3 linked regions of the Homo sapiens genome follow. The protein of the gene in region 1 purifies or fractionates together with the protein of each later gene. This does not show direct contact. Each region holds a gene or a part of one and is shown in the gene's direction. Other genes may lie near its edges.

Region 1 (7,644 bases):
TTGAGACGGAGTCACTGTTGCCCAGGCTGGAGTGCAGTGGTGCGATCTCAGCTCACTGCAACCTCCGCCTTCCGGTGTTCAAGAGGTCTTCCTGCCTCAGCTTCCCAAGTAGCTGGGATTGCAAGCGCGTGCCATCACGTCCAGCTAATTTTTGTATTTTTAGTAGAGATGAGGTTTCACCATGTTGGCCAGTCTGGTCTCAAACTCCTGGCCTCAAGTGATCCACTTGCCTCAGCTTCCCTAAATGTTGGGATTACAGGTGTGAGCCACGGCACCTGGCCAAGGATGGTTTCTTTTTAAAGGGAGGGGATATGATTTATGTAATGTTTATGTAATAGTGAGAATGATCTAGTAGAAATAAAATCTTGAGGGTTTGTTTTTGGCAGAAAATGGAAGGACAAATGCAGGGGGAAAGTTTGTGGGAAGATGAGAGGGCATCCTGGGCCAATGCAGGGAGGGAAATTATTGGAAAGAACAAGAAGTCTTTATTCACAGTGACAGAGGCAGGTAGACTGAGGGTCAGGGGAGGACCGGCTGAAAATTTCACATCTAGTTATTACCATTTTCTCATTATAATGTCAGTCAAGGGCATCTGCTGAGAGTGGGAAAAACAGAGTAAATGAGGTACTTTTTGGAGAAAGCAGGACTGAAATAATTAAGGTGTGGGATAGCGAGTGCGCTGGAGAAGTAGAGTAACCTAATGAGGAACTGCTGAGTTTTCATTTGAAATCTGTGGTCATAAATTCAATTGCAACCCTCGATAATTGTGAAAGTCACTTCCGCTCTCTGAGCCGTACTTTCCTACCTGTTACACAAGGACAGCACTTGTCCCAAAGCAAGGGTATTGTAATCAGAGATGATAAAATATATAGTGACTGGCACATATTAAGGACTCACCAAATAGCAGACCTCATAATCAGTACAGGTATCATCTGTGGTTCGCAGTTCTCCTCCTTACATTACAACTAGGGTGGACCCAAAACTTTGCAATTTTTGCCTTGTTAATTTGTCCTCACCTGTCATTGCACAATCATCCTTCCTTGTTGCATCAACATTTTTTTTTTTCTGAGACAGAGTCTCGCTCTTTCACCCAGGCTGGAGTGCTGTGGCACGATCTTGGCTCACTGCAACCTCTGCCTCCCAGACTCAAGTGATTCTCCTGCCTCAGCCTCCCAAGTAACTGGGATTACAGGCACCCACCACCATGCCCAGCTAATTTTTGTATTTTTAGTAGAGACAGGGTTTCACCATGTTGGCCAGGCTGGTTTCAAATTCCTGGCCTCAAGTGATCCACCTGTCTTGGCCTCCCAAAGTGCTAGGATTACAGGCGTGAGCCACTGCGCCCAGCCTGTATCAACATTTTAAAATGAATTTGAAATTATGGATAGATCATGTCTTCTAAGTGTCTTGTAGAATGTTTGGAGTGTGGATAGAGAAAATCTGAGTCTGTTGAGGAACTATGGGGTGGAAAAGGGTTAACAGCACAATTCTGTTGTAATCAATCTGGCTGAGCTCCAATTCTGTCTCTACTCTTTCTACCTGGTAACGTTGAACAATTAACGCAGCCCATCTAAGTCTTAACTTCCTCATCTGTACAATGGTTATACTAATTATCAGGCTGCTGCAAAAGTACTTGTGGTTTTTGATATTATTTTCAATGGCAAAAACAGCGTTACTTTTGCACCAACCTAATATCACTAAGATTAATCAATATTCACTGTGTCTCAGGAGTGCTCAGTGTTCACACATATTAACACAGCCCATCCACAGATCCTGTGAGAGGCGTTGATAGGGTTAAAGGAAAAGCTCTTGGTGTGTGGGTAATGTTCATAAGTAGAAACAACTATTGCTATGAGCATCGTTCTTGTCCTGACCTTGAACTTCATAATGGATTGAGCCCCACGACACAGCACACAGCCTGGTGAGGGCCAAGAGTTCCCATTTGTCATAGATATACTCAGTCTAGCCTAAAAGATTTCCACATCTATTCTCACTTAATCCTCACCTGAAAGTTAGACTTCACCATAAAATTGTCCTCGTTCTGCAGAGCAGAAAACTGAGGCTCAAAGAGATATCACTGACTAAAAACTCATAGTGAGGAGACATCACAGATGAGATTAGAAGAGAGATGTAGCTGACTTCAGAGCCCAGTATATATATATATTTTAGACAGAGTCTCGCTCTGTCCCCCAGGCTGGAGTGCAGTGGCACGGCTCACTGCAACCTCCGCCTCCCGGGTTCAAGCGATTCTCCTGCCTCAGCCTCCCGAGTAGCTGGGACTGCAAGTGCATGCCACCAGGCCCGGCTAATTTTTTGTATTTTCGGTAGAGACGGGGCTTCACCGTATTGCCCAGGGTGGTCTGGAACTCCTGACCTCAGGCAATCCACCCCCCTTGGCCTCCCAAAGTGTTGGGATTACAGGCGTGAGCCACCGTATCTGGCTGAGCCCAGTATTCTTTGTAACAGTGACTCTCAATTGGGGGTGACTTTGCCTCCGAGGGGACCTTTGACAATGTTTATGGAACCTGTTGATTGTCATTTCTGGAGAAGGAGTTGCTACTGGTGTCTGTGGATAGAGGCCAGGGGGGCTGCTCAACATCCTACTGTGTCCAGAACAGTCTGCCACAACGAAGAATTACCCAGACCCAGATGTCAAAGGTGCCAAGGTTGAGAAACCCTGAGCTACATTAAATAACGTCCCATGGAATACCTCAGTGAAACTCACTGGTAATAGCAGGAAGAAAAGGAGGAAATAAGGAAAAGGAAGAAGGCTAAAAATCACCAGACTGAGGCATAGCCCTATCCTAGTAATCTTGGGGGAATCCCTTTCAAAGGCAGGACTTCCGTATGCAAAGGCAGTGGCTCTGGAGTTGTTCATCTCGGTTTCCGTATCTTGCTGCCTCCACTGACTGGCTGGGCATGATGTTGAAAAAAACTACAGAAGTCCCCGGGCCATGAATTCCCCCAGATGTGATGGCTGTTTCCCAATGTTATTATGAGCATTAGATGTGAACAAGTGCTATGGAATTGCTATTTCTCTTAAAGATGCTGAATAGCCCAGTCTGAGATGATTCTCAAATTCTCATGGCCATAGCAAATCATCCTGGCTTTTACACATACAGATTCTAGAATGAGATTTATGGATATAATTGTTTTTCATTTTTATTATAAGTTCAGGGGTATATGTGCAGGTTTGTTATACAGGTAAACTTGTATCCTGGTGTTTTCTTGTACAGATTATTTCATCACTGAGATATTAAGCCTAATACCCACTACTTATTTTTCCTGATCCTGTCCCTCCCCTCACCCTCCACCTTCCGGTAGGCCCCAGTGTTCCCCTCTTTGTGTCCATGTGTTCTCATCATTTACCTCCCATTTGTAAATGAGAACATGTGGTATTTGGTTTTCTGTTCCTGCATTAGTTTGCTAAGGATAATGAATACAATTTTAACAGGCAGCCTGGATGTTTCTGATAAAGTCCACAGACCACGGCATAAGAAAATGTGCTCAGGTGACGTGGGACTTTGTGTTGAACTGGATACAAATATTACAGATGTGATCCGGACCAGAGGCAGGGACTACATGTTTTGGGTTTTTGTTCTTAAAAGAAAAAAACAAAAACAAAAAAACTTGATCTGAGAAGCTCTGAAGGGTCATATTCTTACAATGTTATTGTCCACAATTTAGTCACGTGTCCACTACCAAAGCAATCCCTTGCAAAGTAAAAGGGATTCTGGTTAGTGCTAATTAGACTAGTCAGGATTTACTCCCAACATGGAGAAAAGACACCTTCTCTGCAGGGTGAGTAACTAAACACAATTGTGGTTTTTCAAGCAGAGAAGAATGGGGAACCGTTGCTGGGTGGGCAACCAGCAATATCTGTCAAGCGTAAGGGTTTAGAAGTCAGACCATGCCAAACTGAAGTCCTGAATCTATTATCTACTACCTAAGTGACCTTCAACACATTTCACAATTGCCCTGAGCTTTCATTTATTCTAATGAAAACTAGAAGTAATGAATATTACATAGCTATTACATAGGCCAAACCGGATCCCATATGTAGTAATTAACACAATGCATAGTCTCTAATAAGAACTTCACAAGTATTAATACAACTTATTATTCTTATAGTCTTTATCCCACAGACACCAAAGCTATACAAATCGGCACTGATTATTTGCATTCCAAACAGAGAAGAGCTCCACATCAAGCAGGGACAGGGAAAAGCAGAGGGTAGAAAGCAGAGATGGAACTCTCTTTGCTGACTTCCTCTAGTGCAGAATCCTCAGGATATAACATACTACTACATGTTACCAGTGACTCCTCAAAATTCTCTTCAACAATAACCTCAAGCCAAACCCTCAAACTTTATCTTGAGTACTAGCCAAGCAATAGGTCAAGGGTTCTCACAGTTTGAGGGACAGGAGTTGGGAGACTGGAAGAACCTGGGGCTGAAAGAGATTGCAGAGCTTGCCAGCATGTTTGCATTGAATGGTGGGAGACACAGATGTGAGCCTTCTGATTCTGAGTCATGTGCCTTCCTCACAATGCTGAGGCTGCCTATGCTCAATTTTCCATTGTCCATACAACATAAGTTCAGTATGAGCCTTGTAATCCTCTTGGTGAAGTGATCAGCCCGATAAGCGAAATGCATATTGATAATGATGGGAATATGGAGGACTATCCCTTCCCAAAGGAGCATCCAAGAGAATGCCAATTCTATAGCACCGTTGTCAACAAGGCTTGGTAGATAGAGTGGGTCTCCTGGTAGGAGTGGGAGCTTTAGTGGAAGTTGATGTGAGCTATAAATACAGATGCTGTAAGATGGTTCCACAGCTGAGAAATGGCCATTGTTGGAATGTTTCAGGTGCTGCTGGCAAGATGGAAACCAACTTCTCCACTCCTCTGAATGAATATGAAGAAGTGTCCTATGAGTCTGCTGGCTACACTGTTCTGCGGATCCTCCCATTGGTGGTGCTTGGGGTCACCTTTGTCCTCGGGGTCCTGGGCAATGGGCTTGTGATCTGGGTGGCTGGATTCCGGATGACACGCACAGTCACCACCATCTGTTACCTGAACCTGGCCCTGGCTGACTTTTCTTTCACGGCCACATTACCATTCCTCATTGTCTCCATGGCCATGGGAGAAAAATGGCCTTTTGGCTGGTTCCTGTGTAAGTTAATTCACATCGTGGTGGACATCAACCTCTTTGGAAGTGTCTTCTTGATTGGTTTCATTGCACTGGACCGCTGCATTTGTGTCCTGCATCCAGTCTGGGCCCAGAACCACCGCACTGTGAGTCTGGCCATGAAGGTGATCGTCGGACCTTGGATTCTTGCTCTAGTCCTTACCTTGCCAGTTTTCCTCTTTTTGACTACAGTAACTATTCCAAATGGGGACACATACTGTACTTTCAACTTTGCATCCTGGGGTGGCACCCCTGAGGAGAGGCTGAAGGTGGCCATTACCATGCTGACAGCCAGAGGGATTATCCGGTTTGTCATTGGCTTTAGCTTGCCGATGTCCATTGTTGCCATCTGCTATGGGCTCATTGCAGCCAAGATCCACAAAAAGGGCATGATTAAATCCAGCCGTCCCTTACGGGTCCTCACTGCTGTGGTGGCTTCTTTCTTCATCTGTTGGTTTCCCTTTCAACTGGTTGCCCTTCTGGGCACCGTCTGGCTCAAAGAGATGTTGTTCTATGGCAAGTACAAAATCATTGACATCCTGGTTAACCCAACGAGCTCCCTGGCCTTCTTCAACAGCTGCCTCAACCCCATGCTTTACGTCTTTGTGGGCCAAGACTTCCGAGAGAGACTGATCCACTCCCTGCCCACCAGTCTGGAGAGGGCCCTGTCTGAGGACTCAGCCCCAACTAATGACACGGCTGCCAATTCTGCTTCACCTCCTGCAGAGACTGAGTTACAGGCAATGTGAGGATGGGGTCAGGGATATTTTGAGTTCTGTTCATCCTACCCTAATGCCAGTTCCAGCTTCATCTACCCTTGAGTCATATTGAGGCATTCAAGGATGCACAGCTCAAGTATTTATTCAGGAAAAATGCTTTTGTGTCCCTGATTTGGGGCTAAGAAATAGACAGTCAGGCTACTAAAATATTAGTGTTATTTTTTGTTTTTTGACTTCTGCCTATACCCTGGGGTAAGTGGAGTTGGGAAATACAAGAAGAGAAAGACCAGTGGGGATTTGTAAGACTTAGATGAGATAGCGCATAATAAGGGGAAGACTTTAAAGTATAAAGTAAAATGTTTGCTGTAGGTTTTTTATAGCTATTAAAAAAAATCAGATTATGGAAGTTTTCTTCTATTTTTAGTTTGCTAAGAGTTTTCTGTTTCTTTTTCTTACATCATGAGTGGACTTTGCATTTTATCAAATGCATTTTCTACATGTATTAAGATGGTCATATTATTCTTCTTCTTTTATGTAAATCATTATAAATAATGTTCATTAAGTTCTGAATGTTAAACTACTCTTGAATTCCTGGAATAAACCACACTTAGTCCTGATGTACTTTAAATATTTATATCTCACAGGAGTTGGTTAGAATTTCTGTGTTTATGTTTATATACTGTTATTTCACTTTTTCTACTATCCTTGCTAAGTTTTCATAGAAAATAAGGAACAAAGAGAAACTTGTAATGGTCTCTGAAAAGGAATTGAGAAGTAATTCCTCTGATTCTGTTTTCTGGTGTTATATCTTTATTAAATATTCAGAAAAATTCACCAGTGAAGCCAACTTGGTCTTGTGTTTTCTTTCTGGGAAGATTTTTAATAACAAGTTTGTTTTCTTTAACAGTGATTAGACTCTTCTGTTTTTTGGTTTTTTGTTTTTTCCTATCTGTCAGTTTTGGTAAACTGAATTTCAAGGAGTTTGGCCATTTCATTCAAACTGTCAAACTCATCGGCATAAAATAGTATAATAACTGTTTAAAAGTTATAAAACAGCATGAAACTTGGCTGGGTGCGGTGGCTCATGCCTGTAATCCAAGCACTTTGGGAGGCCAAGAAGGGTGGATCACCTGAGGTCAGGAGTTTGAGACCAGCCTGGCCAACATGGTAAAACCCCATCTCTACTTAAAATACAAAAATTAGCTGGGCATGGTGGTGCACACCTGTAATCCCAGCTACTTAGGAGGCTGAGGCAGGAGAATTGCTTGAACCCGGGAGGTGGAGGTTGCAGTGAGCCAAGACTGTGCCATTGCACTCCAGCCTAGGGGACAAGAGTGAGACTTTGTCTGAAAAAAAAAAAGTATGAAACTTGAAATGCTTTCTTTTATGTATTTATTAATTTCTGATTTTTGTTCTTCTTGTTGTTATTATCCTAGAGCACAGCCTTTGGAGATACAGTTTCTTTTAAACAACGAAAATGTAAGCTCTCTGAAGTCAGGGATTTTGGTCTGTATGGTTTGCTGATTGAACCCCATCCTCTATGTGTAAAATACTGTCTGATATGTAATAGACATTCATTAAATACTCATTGAATAAATGAATCAATAAACAATAGTATCACCTAGGTGTCAAGTGAGAAGTTTTAATGTCAAATCAAAATTATCTCCAACCCTTATTACATGAACCAGACCATGTCCAGTAAACACCCATCCTCAAGCACACAATATTTAGAAATAC
Region 2 (7,960 bases), on another chromosome or scaffold:
GTAATATTCTGAATGTATGCCGAACTTATAGCCAGTGCAGGGTACCTAATGCTCATAAGGATGCCCACTTGTTTTACTCTGCTTCTAAAGCCAAAAGGGAATTAACCAGAAACCCTCCTCAATATTTCACAAAACCTCCCTCTTTTCAGTAATAACAATTGTATCATAAATCTCACTCTAACGTCTGAAATTTTAAAATTAGTAAGATCATATTACTGCGTCTCTTAAACTGTGAAATTATTTAAGAATTAAAGTTAATTCAATGTCTTCTCTTCTAACTTTTTACTTTGGTTGATTTAATAGTACTGTAATTTCATCAGTATAATAGCCCAGTTCATTTAATAATCAATTTATGATTCTCTTTCTTTTCCTAGAATGTTTCTTATCTAACTGGCAGCAATAGCTGTAGGACTATGGTGTTTCAGCTGCTTATTTTAGCAAAAAGCAAAGTTCCCCTTCACATAGTCTTTTGAAAGAAAAGACATCTGTCTGAATATAAATATATGTAACTAAAAGCCATTAAATTGTAAGTATTTAAGTTCCTCTTCTTCAGCTGCTGAGGAGGAACATCGTCTATATGTTCATTGGCAATGAACTTTGTTTCTTGGTAGGGTGAAGCCTGGAGATGAAGAATCAGAGAAGCCAGGGGACAAAGCAGCATGAGTGATCAGAAAAGCAAGGGAAATGTAGAGGACAGCAGTATTCTCAAACTTTCAGGTCCATCAGGTCCACTTGGTAATCTAAGGGAATCATAATTGATTACAAAATGAATGTTAAAACACGTATTACTTGGCTCCCTCTGCTATCAGATTTGTTTTCCGGTAGGTCTAAGGCAAGACTTGATTATTTGCACTTCTAACAGGTTCCCAGGTGATACTAATGCTGTGGTACTTTAGGAACCACTGTTATAAAAAAATATTTAGGAAGTTTTGCTTTGGGTTGTATGGTATATCTTTCTAAATGACCAAGTGTATTAGTCCTTTTTCACACTGCTATAAAGAACTGCTGAAGACTGGGTAATTTATAAAGGAAAGAGGTTTAACTGACTCACAGTTCAGCATGGCTGGGGAGGCCTAGGAAACTTACAATCATGGCGGAAGGCGAAGGGGAAGCAAGGCACCTTCTTTACAAGATGGCAGGAAGGAGAATGAATGCAGGAGGAACTATCAAACACTTACAATACCATCAGATGAGAACGCACTCAGTATCATGACAACAGCACCGGGGAAACTGCCCCAAGGATTCAATTACCTCCATCTGGTCTCTCTGTTGACACATGGGGATCATGGAGATTATGGGGATTATAATTCAAGGTGAGATTTTGGGTGGGGACATAGCCAAACCATATCACCAACCATTCTCTTTGTCTGATACTACAGAATTTACCTGGCCTGAGACTTTCAAGGGTAAAACTGGAAAGTCTGCCACAAACCAGAAAGATTTGTTCTATGAAAGTTATCAGAATCAAAATGGGGCCACTTGCATAAAAACCCTGAAAAATGGAGCTAAGGAAGACCAGAAAGGGAGGGTTTATATGCGTGTATGCCTGACAACAGGAACTACGACAAAAGACTGCACAAACCACAACTTTGCACAAAGGCCACCACAATCTCACAAAAAATTACTTCTGTGAGGACATTTGCCCAGCAACTGCCTGTCCAACCTCAAACTGGTGCCACCCTTTCTACCAGTCCTTGTAACCAAGGATAATTGTCTCAAAGCAATTTATGTAACCCTCTTCATTTTTCTTTTAAAATCCCTTGTCTTCTTTTACCTCCCTATGTTCATTGTATTCTAACTGTAATGCTCAATCCCAAATAAATATTATTGTTTTTTAGAAGGGTCTCTCCGTGTGTGTGTTACTTAGGTTTAACCAGTCCCCTATACAATGTCTTCAAGACATTTTCAGTAGAGCTAAAATACTTGCTAATGCTTTTGTACTAAAATGTGTGTGTTTTTTTTAATTGATTCATTAATTTTAAAATATAGATTTTAAATTGATATGTTAAGATTGACCTCAAGGGTATAGTTGCATTTTAGAGCTTATCATCTGTGATTTTTGGCCCAGGGTGCAGTACTCTGCTGTAGCTAGAACGAATTGTCACCTAGAAAGGAGTAAACCGTCACTCTGATTAGCAAGTGGCCAATGTTTTCATTCAGCAACAAGTGAAAAGGGGTGCAATAAGAGGCAGGGTGTTTCTTGGACTAATACTTCAAAGTTATTACAGTTACAGCCTTTGGGGAAATTCACTGTTCAGATATGGCTGTTTCAAACAGTTAAGTATATGCAATGTTATGCGAGTTCATCAAATTAGGAATGTCTTAATTGATCAAAGTAAGCTAGGTTATACAGGAGAAATAAAGTCAAAATCTTAATGGCTTATAAACAAAAAAGATTTATTTCTTGCTAAAACAACCTATCCTTAGAACCCCAACAGAAATTGCCCATTTTTCTGCCATAACTTACTTATCATAATTCAAGTAGCACAAATAAATAGTTGATGTGCAATGACAATGGGATTGCTCATCCTAATGACTCTTTTTCACAAACATCTATGGAAAATGGCAGTTGGAATTCTGAATGGAAAATGTAAGTTGAAATTAATGCTGATCTAGTTTTAAATGATAGGTCTAATAATATGTAATCTATTTCATTAAAACCCCAGAGGTAGCTATTTTAATAGGTCTTGATTTAGGAGCAGAGCTTTGGAAAGCATTTCAAGATTATCAAAGATGTTGTAATCTAAGAGTAGAAAAGTGACAACAGCTTCATCGATTTGCAGATAGTAAAAATAACTAACAAACGAGTGAAGTACTCTACAAAGAACTCTACTGGGCCCATGGAGCTTCTTAGCATTCTCAGGTAATATGTTTTACATCAATCGTTTCCAAATATGAAGATTATTATTCAGTGATTTGAGATGGCTCTCTACAATCTAGTTTTTCACAATGTTCCCCCAGCAGATTTTGATGTAATTAGTCTGTAACATGAACATTTTTTTAAAAGATGAAACTTGTATTTCAACTTGGTGTATGGAAACAGAGGAGAGTGGAATGTAAATGTAAAGTTATTGGGACTAGTGAAACATTCAGTTCAGTATACATTGTAGATTATTTTAACCTATAAGGCTATGAAGTTATTTTATTACTCTTGGTCTGATTTTCTAATTCCTACACTTGGTTCTGACACTAATTTTTTATGTAATTTTAGGTAAATCATTCATTTTTTTAAAACCAACTTCTTTTATAACATGAAGTCAAGTAGATTATTAATAAAGATCCCTACCCATTCTAGAACCCCATATTTCCTTGAAACTTTCCATTTTATGTAAAGGGATGTGTGCAGCATGTATAGGAGTCAAATGTTTAACATAAACTATTGGTGGCAATTGTTATGAAGAAAAATGGAGAGCATAAATGTCTAGTCTTGTTCTACTCCCTTTAAAAACGACCCACTATTTCTAGGGTGGGTCAGTAAGCTGCAGAGTATATATAACACGATTTAGCAGGTCAACAGGTCAGGAGCTAATTACTTGTAGATCACATCAACCTCTTGAAGACTGAATCATCTGGAGATGTGTTACAAGTGACTTAAACAGATAAGTACAGCATGGACTCAACAATAAAATGGGAGATAATGGTTAAAACAAAGCTAAGCATCACATCAGAGTAGGATCCTCACATGACTTTATTCCAGTAATGTAAATGTTCCCATCCCAGCCCTCATTCACCACTACTTCCTCTTATCATTGAGGAAACAGGCAGAGACAGAATGGAAAGGCAGTCAGCTTAATTTAAGAAACTTTCTTAAGTTTAGAAATACTGAATTAGTTTTAACCCAGAAAAAGAGCTCAATTGAGAACTCTGAGGTTTGCAACCTTAAATCCCGCCTAAATTCTGATATATTCCTGCCAAAGGCAACCTGATTGAGGTTACCTGAGAAATAGTTTTTCTACAAAACATGGCCAACCATGCTCAAGACAAAATTACAACACATAATTTATCTTCGGCATTCTTCAAATTATTTACCTCATCTCCTGCCCCCAGCACCTAATCCCAGAATACAGGAATTTGATGATGTCTACACAGCCTATAAAAGTCCACAAATTTAAGTGCCTACTGTGTGAAAGCCATTTTGGGGACTACAAACATAAAGGATGTATAATGCCACCCACTAAGATGTTCACGCTTATGATTTAGTAGGAAAAACAGAAGGCTGCCTTACAGATATTAACAACCAAATTTACAGGCACACCTAAAACATCCCGAATTCTAAAATATATATGTATTTTCCAAATCCTACAGGGTAATATGACTATGAAAGTGCACTAGGAATGTCAATTTAACTAAATCCTCTGAGAGCATCCACATTTTGAAAGAGTTCTCTTTTAACCTAAACAAACAAACGAACAAACACTCCTCTCACTGAAGTTCATTCGGCATTGACGGGTCTCTGGTTCTTCAAGTTTTCATCTAAAACTCTCAGTCTTTGCTATCACAACCAACGCACCCTTCCTACACTCCAAAGTTGATGGAATGAAATGTCTTGGAATTGAGGGTTTAATTAATTCGGATCACTGGAGAGAAATAACAGAAATAACGGGGGAAAAAATGTGTCCATTTTAGGGCTTGGAATTGGAAACGTGGGGAAACGTCGCCACCTTCTGGTAAGTGATGGAAGTGAGCAGGAAAAAAGATCCAAGCTAAGAAGCGGCTTTTTTTTTTTTTTTTTTTTTTTTTTTTTTCTAAGCAGCAAGCCACGCACCTCCCGCGCTGGCGAAATCCGAGACCCGCCCCTTCCGGAAGTTTTGACACTTTGTGCGCCCCGGGCAATGCGATTGAGAGGGTAATCATCCGGTCCGTTATCTAAACCCGTCACTCCGGGAAACAGCGACCCGATCTTTCCGGATCCGCGCTCTCCCAGCATCCTTTGCCTTCCGGTATGTGGCCCCGTCTGGCTAGTCCCGCCTAGCGCGCCCATTTCGAGCCCAAGTTTCCAGCTCGGGTTTCCAGGCTCAGAATTTTCCAGGAGTAGGTTCTTGGGCAGTGGCTGTGGGAGCTGGAATGGCGCAGCTGGAAGGTTACTATTTCTCGGCCGCCTTGAGCTGTACCTTTTTAGTATCCTGCCTCCTCTTCTCCGCCTTCAGCCGGGCGTTGCGAGAGCCCTACATGGACGAGATCTTCCACCTGCCTCAGGCGCAGCGCTACTGTGAGGGCCATTTCTCCCTTTCCCAGGTGGGGTCCCCAACCTGTCCCCACCCCAGGAGAGGCCTGAGAGGTCCCAGCGTCCCCACGTCCTCCCATCCTTAGACTTCACTCGTCCTGTTCCACCCCCTCAAGCCTCAGAACATGAAAGAAACTGGGTATAGTCTTTTGTTCCTGTCTCTGAGATCTGTGAAATATTTATTAAATGAATGAATAAACAGCAGATCTGTCCTCCAGGAAGGAGTGATCTGGGAGAATACTCAACGGGGAACTGAGCCCTCCTCTTGGCAGCTGACGATATCGATCCCACTTTGTCTTTCCTTGTTTTAGGATTAAAGGCATTCGGGTGCTCCTTGGAAATACCAGAAAACTTTCCTTTAGCTCACCTGTCAAGCACCTCACTGTGCATTTTAGGGGTGGGATAGGGTGGACTGGAGGGATCTTCAGCTACCAAAAAGTGACAATTTATAATCACAAATTCCTTCCCTGGGTATTTTTAGTGAACTGTTAACTGGATAAACTGGCAACCAGTCAAGTCACATCATTTTTGAGTATATATTTGACTGTGCAAGTATGTACATATAAATATCAAAATAAGCATCCCCTGCTTCTCTGGTGACACAATATAGGGTACTGGCTAGAAATATAAAGTCTGTTTTAGAGAAAGATCTGATCTTAAATCTTGGTGCTGTGATTTACTAGTTTTGTGATCTTGGAGATGTTCTGAGTTTCAGAAATTCAGGTTACTCATCTGCAAAATGACAATAATCTTTACTATAGGGCATATTGTAACGTTAATACAGAGGGTTTGGCAACAATTTCTGTCTCAGTTTATGTTAGCTGTCATCATGGAGCCTGTGGTCCAAATGTTTTCCTAAACTTAAGAGTCCCAAACAATGTTTCCATGCTTTTAAAAACTGGAACATTTGCAGTTTATTTATCAAAATAAAGGCTTTTAAAGAACATTTCTTGGAAAATAGAAATAGATTTTAAGTTGTTGTTGTTTATTGGTTGCTGCTACCTGAACCATCACTAAGCTGGTCCGGGGGCAAAAAATAAGAAAAACGAATCCTGTTCTGCCAAGGACTTACTTAATCTTGTCATAGAATAACTTCTCAAAATTTCTGATTGTTGCTGGAGATGAGACTTGGGCTTGACATATTTGTGCCTGTCTTGTTCCTATTACCTCTTGCTTTTACTTCATTTTCTTTCATTTTAAAGTGGGATCCCATGATTACTACATTACCTGGCTTGTACCTGGTGTCAATTGGAGTGATCAAACCTGCCATTTGGATCTTTGGATGGTCTGAACATGTTGTCTGCTCCATTGGGATGCTCAGATTTGTTAATCTTCTCTTCAGTGTTGGCAACTTCTATTTACTATATTTGCTTTTCTGCAAGGTACAACCCAGAAACAAGGTATGTTTCAAAATACTTAATTACAAGTTTATGTGTAGTCAGGTCCACAATTACAATGAATTAGTTTTATGAGATTTGGTGAAAAATGTCTTTAACACTTTGTAACTTTGTATTTTTGTATATTATGTAAAGGTAAATTTAAATCCTCCATCTCCATTTTAGAATAAATTCGTATTTAAATACTTGAATAACTTATTTGTAAAATCTGAAGTAAATATTTGTTAAGTGAGTCAAACCAGTTCAATAAATACTTACTGAACTTATTCCATGTGCTAGGGACTGGGACTACAGAGATAAATGAGGCAGTCTTTTTCTTGTAAAACGTATATATTCATTAGGGAAAACAGACTTTACCTGAGGACTTTTGATGTGATAACAGTGCAGGCCCTGGAGGTAGATTGCCTGGGTTAGAATTCTCTCCCTGCCACTTAACCAGTTTTGTTACCATGGACAGGTTAACCCTTAGTGGCTCCATGTCTTCATGTATTAAATAAGAATAACAATAGAATCTGCCTTATAGAACTGTTATAAAGGAACAAAGAAACTTAATAAATGGAAGATGCTTCGAACAGTGCCAGAGATATAGTAAGGGTTCAGTAAATATTAACTCTAATAATTATTTTTAACCTTAAGAGATGATTTCAGTAGTGTCAGTTATGATAGAGTGGTAAACATAAGATGCTATGAGGATACAGAGAAGGAGCAGGGGAACACTTACTGCTTTTCTGGGAGGGAGGGGAGTATGTGGCATTTGGTAAGTCCTCACAGAGAAGATGGTACCAGAGCTGAGTCTTGATGAACGGATAGGGCTGTGTAGGGTGGGGAATTAATCCTGGGGAGACAAACAACATAAGAAAAGGAAGAAAGGCATTGAACAACGAGTTGCAGGGAATTGGTCTTGGAATTACAGGATTAAAAAGTAGAGGGATGTAAGGCTAGAGAAGTAGGTCATGAATGCCCTTATGTGTCACAGAGAGGACTTTGAACTTTAGCATGTAATGTAAAGACCTTAATTTTAATCAAGGAAATGGCATGGTCTGATTTGGTGATTTAGATTAAGTGGAGTATACAATTCAAGAACATAAGAACACTTTCAAATTCTGAAACAGCATGTCAGAAAGGCCAAAAGAAGATATATAACTTTAGACAGGCTCACTTTTCAGAAAAATACCTGTTATTTCATCATGAAAATTTCATCTTGAAAAAGTAAGTCTGGGTATGGTAGTATACCATATGCATGTTTATATTCTCCCTTGTGTAGAGTTATGAAGGATTTCCTTAAAGGAAAGTGGTTCATTATGGCTAAGTGAATCCTTACTGAAGGCACTAAAACATA
Region 3 (7,000 bases), on another chromosome or scaffold:
GGTAGCACGTGCCTGTAATCCCAGCTACTTGGGAGGCTGAGGCAGGAGAACTGCTTGAACCCAGGAGGCAGAGGTTGCAGTGAGCCAAGACTGTGCCACTACACTCCAGCCTGGGTGACAGAGTGAGACTCTGTCTCAAAAATAAAAAATAAAAATAAATATTTGCTTAAATATTTTTGGTTCTAGGATTTGCTTTCCCCTACTGAAAGCTAACATGTTCTCCTGTTAGTAATGTTTCATAGATGTTGTTAGAAAACACAGTATTCTTGGGTCAGAGAAAGTCCTTGCTATGCTTAGTAATTTTATTTTCTTACAAAATTATAGGGGTAAATTTTAAAATTTTCAATTAATACCTATTTTATAGAGGAAAAACCAGACTTAAGTGATTAAGTAACTTGTATAAGGTTTGCTTAGCTAGTAAATGGCAGAACCAGGATTGGAAGTTAGTTTCTTTGAGTCCATCCTGTTACTCTCTATATACTATATTAACTCTTTGAATCCCTCTTTGTTGGGTTGAGAGATCTGTATATATCTTTAGAGTGAGATTTTAGGCCAGGTGCAGTGGCTCACACCTGTAATCCCAGCACTTTAGGAGGCTGAGATGGGTGGATCACTTGAGGTCAGGAGTTCGAGACCAGCCCGGCCAACATGGCGAAACCCCATCTCTACAAAAAGTACAAAAATTAGCCAGACGTGATGGTGCGTGCCTGCATGCCTGTGGTCTTCAGCTACCTGGGGGGCTGAGGCGGGAGAATCACTTGAGCCCAGGAAGTTGAGGCTATAGTGTTTTGTATTTGTGCCACTGCACTCCTGCCTGGGTGACAAAGTGAAACCCTTTTTTATTTAAAAAAAAAAAAAGACTTAAATTTTGTGTTCTTTATTCTGTATTCTTACTAATTTCTAGGTTGTTTTATATATCAACTTTTTTTTGTCTTTTTGAGACAGGGTCTTGCTGTCTCACCAAGCCTGGATTGCAGTGATGGTATCACAGCTCACTGCAGTCTCGACCTCCCAAGGTCAAGCCACCCTCCCACCTCAACCTCCCAGGAGGACCACAGGCATACATCACCAAGCCTGGCTAATTTTAAATTTATTTTTTGTGGCCGGGTGCGGTGGCTCACGCCTGTAATCCCAGCACTTTGGGAGGCCGATGGGGGTGGATCATTTGAGGTCAGGAGTTCAAGACCAGCCTGGCCAACATGGTGAAACCCCGTCTCTACTAAAAATACAAAAATTAGCTGGGCATGGTGGTGTTTGCCTGCAGTCCCAGCTACTTGGGAGGCTGAGACAGGAGAATCGCTTGAATCCGGGAGGCGGAGGTTGCAGTGAGCTGATATTGTGCCACAGCACTCCAGCCTGGGTAAGAGAGCAAGAATCAGTCTCAAAAAAAAAAAAAAATTTTTTTTTTCCTAGAGATGTGGTCTCCCTATGTTACACAGGCTAGTCTCAAAACTCTTGGGCTCATGTGATCCTCCAACCTCAGCCTCCCAAAGTGCTGGGATTACAGGTGTAAGCCTGGCTAGTATATCAATTTCTGATGGAAATGTTAAAATCTATGATTGCAGATTTTGTCCATTTGTCTATATAATTCTGACTTACATTTAAATATTTCAAAGCCATATTTGAAAGCTATCTATAGCTATATATAAATATATAATTATAAAAATAATTCTATTGCAAACATATGCAAAGTTAGATATAATTTACGTATTTCAAAGGTATATACAAGTTCAGGAATTTTAATATTCTTGGTGAATTGCTTTCCTTCTTTATCATCCTATTTACTTATTTTGCCTTAAGTAATTTGTATGTATTAATATTGCTAATGAGCTATTTTGGGAGTTGGTGTTTGTCTGATATATCTTTCCCATAACTTTATTTTCAGTGTTCCTATTTGGTTTTGTTGTAGGTATGTTTCTTAAGCATACAGCTATAGTTTTGGGGTTTTATAAAAAATTTAGTCCTATAGTGTCTGGGTTTTGTTTTGTTTTTGAGATGAGCTCTTGCTCTGTTGCCCAGGATGGTCTCTGCATTTGTCTGTTCTCATGCTGCTAATAAAGACATAGCCGAGACTGGGCAATTTATAAAGGAAAGAGGTTTAATTGACTCACAGTTCCACATGGTTGTGGAGACCTCACAATCATGGTGGAAGATGAAGGAAAAGCAAAGGGATGTCTTACATGGTGGCGGCAGGCAAGAAAGAATGAGAGCCCAAGCGAAAGGGGAAACTCCTTATAAAACTATCACATCTCGTGAGACTTATTCACTACCATGAGAACAGTATGGCAGGAAACCACCCCCATGATTCAGTTATCTCTCACCCTGTCCTTTCCACAACACATGAGAATTATGGGAGCTACAGTTCAAGATGAGATTTGGGTGGGGACACAGCTAAACCATGTCAGTCTCCAACTCCTGGGCCCAAGCAATCCTTGCACCTTGGCCTCCCAAGTCACTGGGACTACAGGTGCATGCCACCATGCCTAGCAAGTCTCTGTCTTAAAAACTCTTGTGCATGTGTAACAAATTTTAATTCACAAAGGTTACATTTCAAGAGTTACTTTTTACTGTAGTTGAGATAAGGGGAGTCTGGACAACATTGTGACACTTGTCTCTACAAAAAAAAGTTATAAAAAATTAGCCAGGCCTGGTGGTTCATGCCTGCAGTCATTCCCAGCTACTTGGGAGGCTGTGGGAAGATTGTTTGAACCCAGGAGTTCAAGGCTGCAGTAAGCCATGTTCATGCCACTGCACTCCAGCCTGGGTGACAGAGCAAGACTCTCAGAAAGAATAATCTGGAGATATTGTTGAGAACTTGGGTTTTGTTTTTTATTTTGAGTGTTATACAAGTTCAAAGTCTAGTATAAATTTCTCAGAGCCAACATGGTGCTGATGGAGTGAGCTATTTGTGCATTTTAAACTGAAACTCTTGTCATTAGTGTTAGCCCTTTATCAGCTTTGTATCTCTAAAACACCTGAAAGACTGTCTTAGAAAACCATCATAGCTTGTTGATTATGAGTACATCCCTTGGTTTGGAATCATAAGGACTAAGACTTAAATTTAAAGCATGAGAAATTAAGATGTTTTTACACTAAGGAGAAGTTGTAAAAAATACTGATTTGGAATCTCTGTAAGTGACTTCTGTTTTTTTGTAGAGTCACCTAGGCTGTGTGGAATACAATGTGGTTAGAATCTTTTAAACTAAAATAACTCAGTATATTGTTTATTAAACTTTCTAGGGAAATGGGCAGATTACTCTGAATATTCCTTTTCCTTCTGCTTTTCTTTTTATCTTAAAAAGGAGTAAATTGCATGGATGACTTGAAGTGACGAGTTGGTATTTATTATTTGAATCAACAGTAAAAATTTTTTGGACATAGTGTGAAAATCCTTATTTAAGTAATTAGGGCAGAATTCTTGTCAATTAAAAAAAAATCTCAATGGCAAAGTAGAGCTGTAAAGAAGGAGTTAGGAATAATAACTACATTCAAGATGAAAGATGAAGAACAACTGTAAAGATTCCTTGAAGGCTAAGATCTACCCAAAACTGAGGTCCACCAAAGGAAGAATTCAGGAATGGACAAGGTATTTTTTCCATAATAGGATGAATAAATGTGATAAACTTACCAAGATAAGCCTACCAAGCACAGGCCTCCTAGATATTAGGCTTATCTGTACAGGGCTTTATACATGCAGATAAGTACTATATTTTCTTAAATTGATTTCTAAGAGTTATGATTAATAAAAGCCTCTTACAGCTATATACTAAAACGTGGTCCAAGTTAGGAAGATAGTTAAGCTCCTGGACCTGGTGTGTTTTACCTTTTGTTTTTTAGTCTCAGCTTTTCCTTACCAGCTCATTACTCATCATGTTTTTTCCATCTAAAGAAAGCCCACCTTTAACCTGCAGAAAACACTGGTAATGCCTTTGGGGAAAATAACAGAGGCATCTCCCATCCCCAGAGTAGTGAAAGACAGTGTGTATTCTCAGAATGTGCCCCCTCCACCCTCCTGTTACCCATGCTGGCTCTTTTTCTGTGCAGTGTGGCTTCCTGTTGTGGTGCATGGCCCCGAGCCCTTCTAATGGGGCTGAACTGCTCTACAAGCGCATCATCCGTCCTTTCTTCCTGAAGCACGAGTCCCAGATGGACAGTGTGGTCAAGGACCTTAAAGACAAGGCCAAAGAGACTGCAGATGCCATCACTAAAGAAGGTAAGACTCAGGAACAAGATGGCCCCACATGTGAGAGGAGATGTGACACACTGGGCTCAAATAACAGGCTTCCTGGCCTTCTTGTCTTATCACCACCCCTCAGCCAAATGCCAACATTACTCTGGGATTTCTTTACAAAGTCTTTGCCTATTGAGAACACTTACAGTTCTCGACTTTTCCCAAGACTCTTCCTCCATGCCACATTTAATGTAGCCTTCAGTCAGAACATTAGGAAAAATGACTTTCCTTGGTAGGCAGCGATTTTAGAGAATCATCTATATTGATATGCAAGTCCATCTCTTCTAATTGTTTATTTAATTTTTTTGTATTATACTTAATTACATAGGTAGTTTTAAATAAATGGAGAAAGCACCTTTCAAAAGCTATACTAGCAGGAAAAATTCCATCAAGCATTTACGTAGTAAATTTCTATAATTTTACAAAAAATTCTTGATCTTTACTTGAACTGTACATGAGGGGAAAAGAGCCCCCTCAGGTATGTGTTCTCTCCACTTGCAGAAGAAAACTAAAGGACCTAAAACTAGAGACAAGCCTGGGATGCCAAAAAGCGGGAGGAGAAATGATAAAGAGCCATTCATGAATTCCATGTCTACTCTAAGACACTTGTCTAATCACCCTCACATAATAAATATTTAGGGCAAACTACCACTCTTTAGAAAAAGTACAACCTCAAAACCTATAGTTCTGAATTGTAACATATCGAATACCTTGGACTGCTGGATGCCAAAAGACAATACTTGGGGTTATCTATGACGTTTAAACAGGTAAATAGGGGAATTCTCTAGGACTGTACACTCTGTGACGTTTTGAATGAAGCGCAGGCAGGCTTCTCTGCTATCCTCCAGGCAGTGTAATAGTCAAGGAAAAGAGCAACAGTATTGGATCACTCCTTAGACACTAACCAGCTGGTGAAAGAGTTCATTGGCCAGTCTCCTCCTTAGAATGGTTTGCACCAAGTGGAGAGGCCATGTCGCTGAAGGGGAAAGGGGAGCCCTCATACCCACAGTCACTGTAAACATCCAGTAGACAGGAAGATGGCTTCGGGCAGTGGCTGGATGGAAGTAGATTGGAGATACCCAGGTCTGGAATGAAGTCATCTTCCACAAAGTCTTCCTTCACTGAGACCACGAATTCTGGGTGATCATTCTCTAAAAGGCTGAGAGGTGCTTCCTTGATTTTCACTACCGCATTAGCTTGGCTCTCTGTCTCAGACTACGGGCTTGGCATATATGTAGTCAAAATTAATTAGTTCATTAATAGCTTCAAGCTTGGCTGATAATGTCCCCACTGACAGAGAAAGGGAGGCTGGTTAGGAATTGGGTCCTTCTGAGTAGACCTCTGGGAGCTGCTCCAGGCTGGCAGACCCTGGGGAAGGACATTTGAAGAACACTAGTGGGTCTAAGTTGTCCAGAATGCCCAACAGGATATCATACTGGGAAGGTAGTTGATGTTTACTTCCAACCCCACCACAACTAACTTCTACCCTCATCTGCCTAGTTAGGGATGTCAAGCATCAAATAGATGGAATTATCTTGGCTTTCGCCTCCTCTTCAGTAACCAGAGCATCCATCCCCAAGTGCTGTCTTCACTCATGGTTCTCAACTACGAGTCCATGCATTTTCTCTTGTAAAAACTGATTTTCTAGCAAAAGTTTTTGGTTCTGTTCTAAATCTACCACTTGCTGTTTCAGGTCACTCATTTGAGCTTGCTTTCTGTCTCTGGCAGTTTGAGCTGCTAATCCTGTTTTTCCTCCTCAGTGCCTTCTCCTTGGGGCTCCCCACCCCCACAGCACTCACCATCTCCTGGCTGGCTCCTCTCTGGGCTGGCACCATGAGCAGCAGGGCCTAGCTGGCCAAGGCTGTAGCAGCAGGCTGACCAGACAGAAGCAGTACTTTGGAGGCCCTGACGGCCAGCCTGATTCAGTTCAGATTGATCGGTTCAGTATGCTGTTCAGTTTTTGTTATGGGTACAAAAGAATGTCCACTCTCAGCTCTGATTAATTCACTCAATAAATATTTATTTATTGAGGTGTTTAATATGTGCCAAGCATGTTCATAACACTGGCAGTGAACCAGCATACCGAAGAGACCATACTCCTTGAATTCATGAAGCTTACAGTCTAGTTGAGAGATAGGCAGTAAAATTGAAAATTAGATAGTATATTTACCATATAATATAGGGAAAAAATAAAGCAAGTAGAAAGATGGGGGGGGGCCAAGGACTGGAGGGATGGTTATGATTTTAAATAGAGACGTTTAGGAAATCTATACCAGAAGGCTCTACTGAATCAGACTCAATAGTAGTAAAGGAATCAGGAACAGTGACTCAGCCTGTAATCCCAACATTTTGGGAGGCTAAGGCAGGAGATCACTTGAGGCCAGAAGTTTGAGACCAGCTTGTTTGTGACAGGGTCTCCTATGGAGACCCGCTCTCTACAAAAATTTAAAAATTAGCCGGACGTTGTGATGCAAGCCTGTGGTGCCAGCTACTCAGGAGGCTGAGGCAGGAGGATCACTTGGGCCCAGGTAATCAAGGCTGCAAGTGAGCTGTGCCACTCTAGCCTGGGTTACAAAGCAAAACCCTATCCCCCTAAAAAAAAAAAAAAATAGAAAATGGTAAAAGAAGGAACCATGGGGAATCATACTTTAGAATGAGCTGCATATACAGAAGTCCGGAGGTGGGAGCAACAAAAGAAGTGATCTAGAGGGGTGCAGGAGGAGATGAGGTGGAAGAAGTTGCGAATGGAGGCTGGAAGACGTATCACAT

Evidence for each region.
Region 2: the proteins of FPR2 (region 1) and ALG10 purify together in Homo sapiens (affinity purification with mass spectrometry; 2 studies listed by BioGRID and IntAct, with this or other methods). This does not show direct contact.
Region 3: the proteins of FPR2 (region 1) and REEP5 purify together in Homo sapiens (co-immunoprecipitation; 3 studies listed by BioGRID and IntAct, with this or other methods). This does not show direct contact.

What each region holds. Positions count from the first base shown.
Region 1 is NC_000019.10:51,763,778-51,771,421, forward strand, and holds the end of FPR2 (N-formyl peptide receptor 2), read left to right. Parts: intron 1-4,867; 5' UTR 4,868-4,881; coding exon 4,882-5,937; 3' UTR 5,938-6,754; downstream 6,755-7,644. UniProt on the Homo sapiens protein: Low affinity receptor for N-formyl-methionyl peptides, which are powerful neutrophil chemotactic factors. Binding of FMLP to the receptor causes activation of neutrophils.
Region 2 is NC_000012.12:34,017,536-34,025,495, forward strand, and holds the start of ALG10 (dol-P-Glc:Glc(2)Man(9)GlcNAc(2)-PP-Dol alpha-1,2-glucosyltransferase), read left to right. Parts: upstream 1-4,960; 5' UTR 4,961-5,064; coding exon 5,065-5,235; intron 5,236-5,241; exon of another isoform or gene 5,242-5,363; intron 5,364-6,426; coding exon 6,427-6,624; intron 6,625-7,960. UniProt on the Homo sapiens protein: Dol-P-Glc:Glc(2)Man(9)GlcNAc(2)-PP-Dol alpha-1,2-glucosyltransferase that operates in the biosynthetic pathway of dolichol-linked oligosaccharides, the glycan precursors employed in protein asparagine (N)-glycosylation.
Region 3 is NC_000005.10:112,884,228-112,891,227, reverse strand, and holds part of REEP5 (receptor expression-enhancing protein 5), read left to right. Parts: intron 1-4,044; coding exon 4,045-4,213; intron 4,214-7,000. UniProt on the Homo sapiens protein: Plays an essential role in heart function and development by regulating the organization and function of the sarcoplasmic reticulum in cardiomyocytes.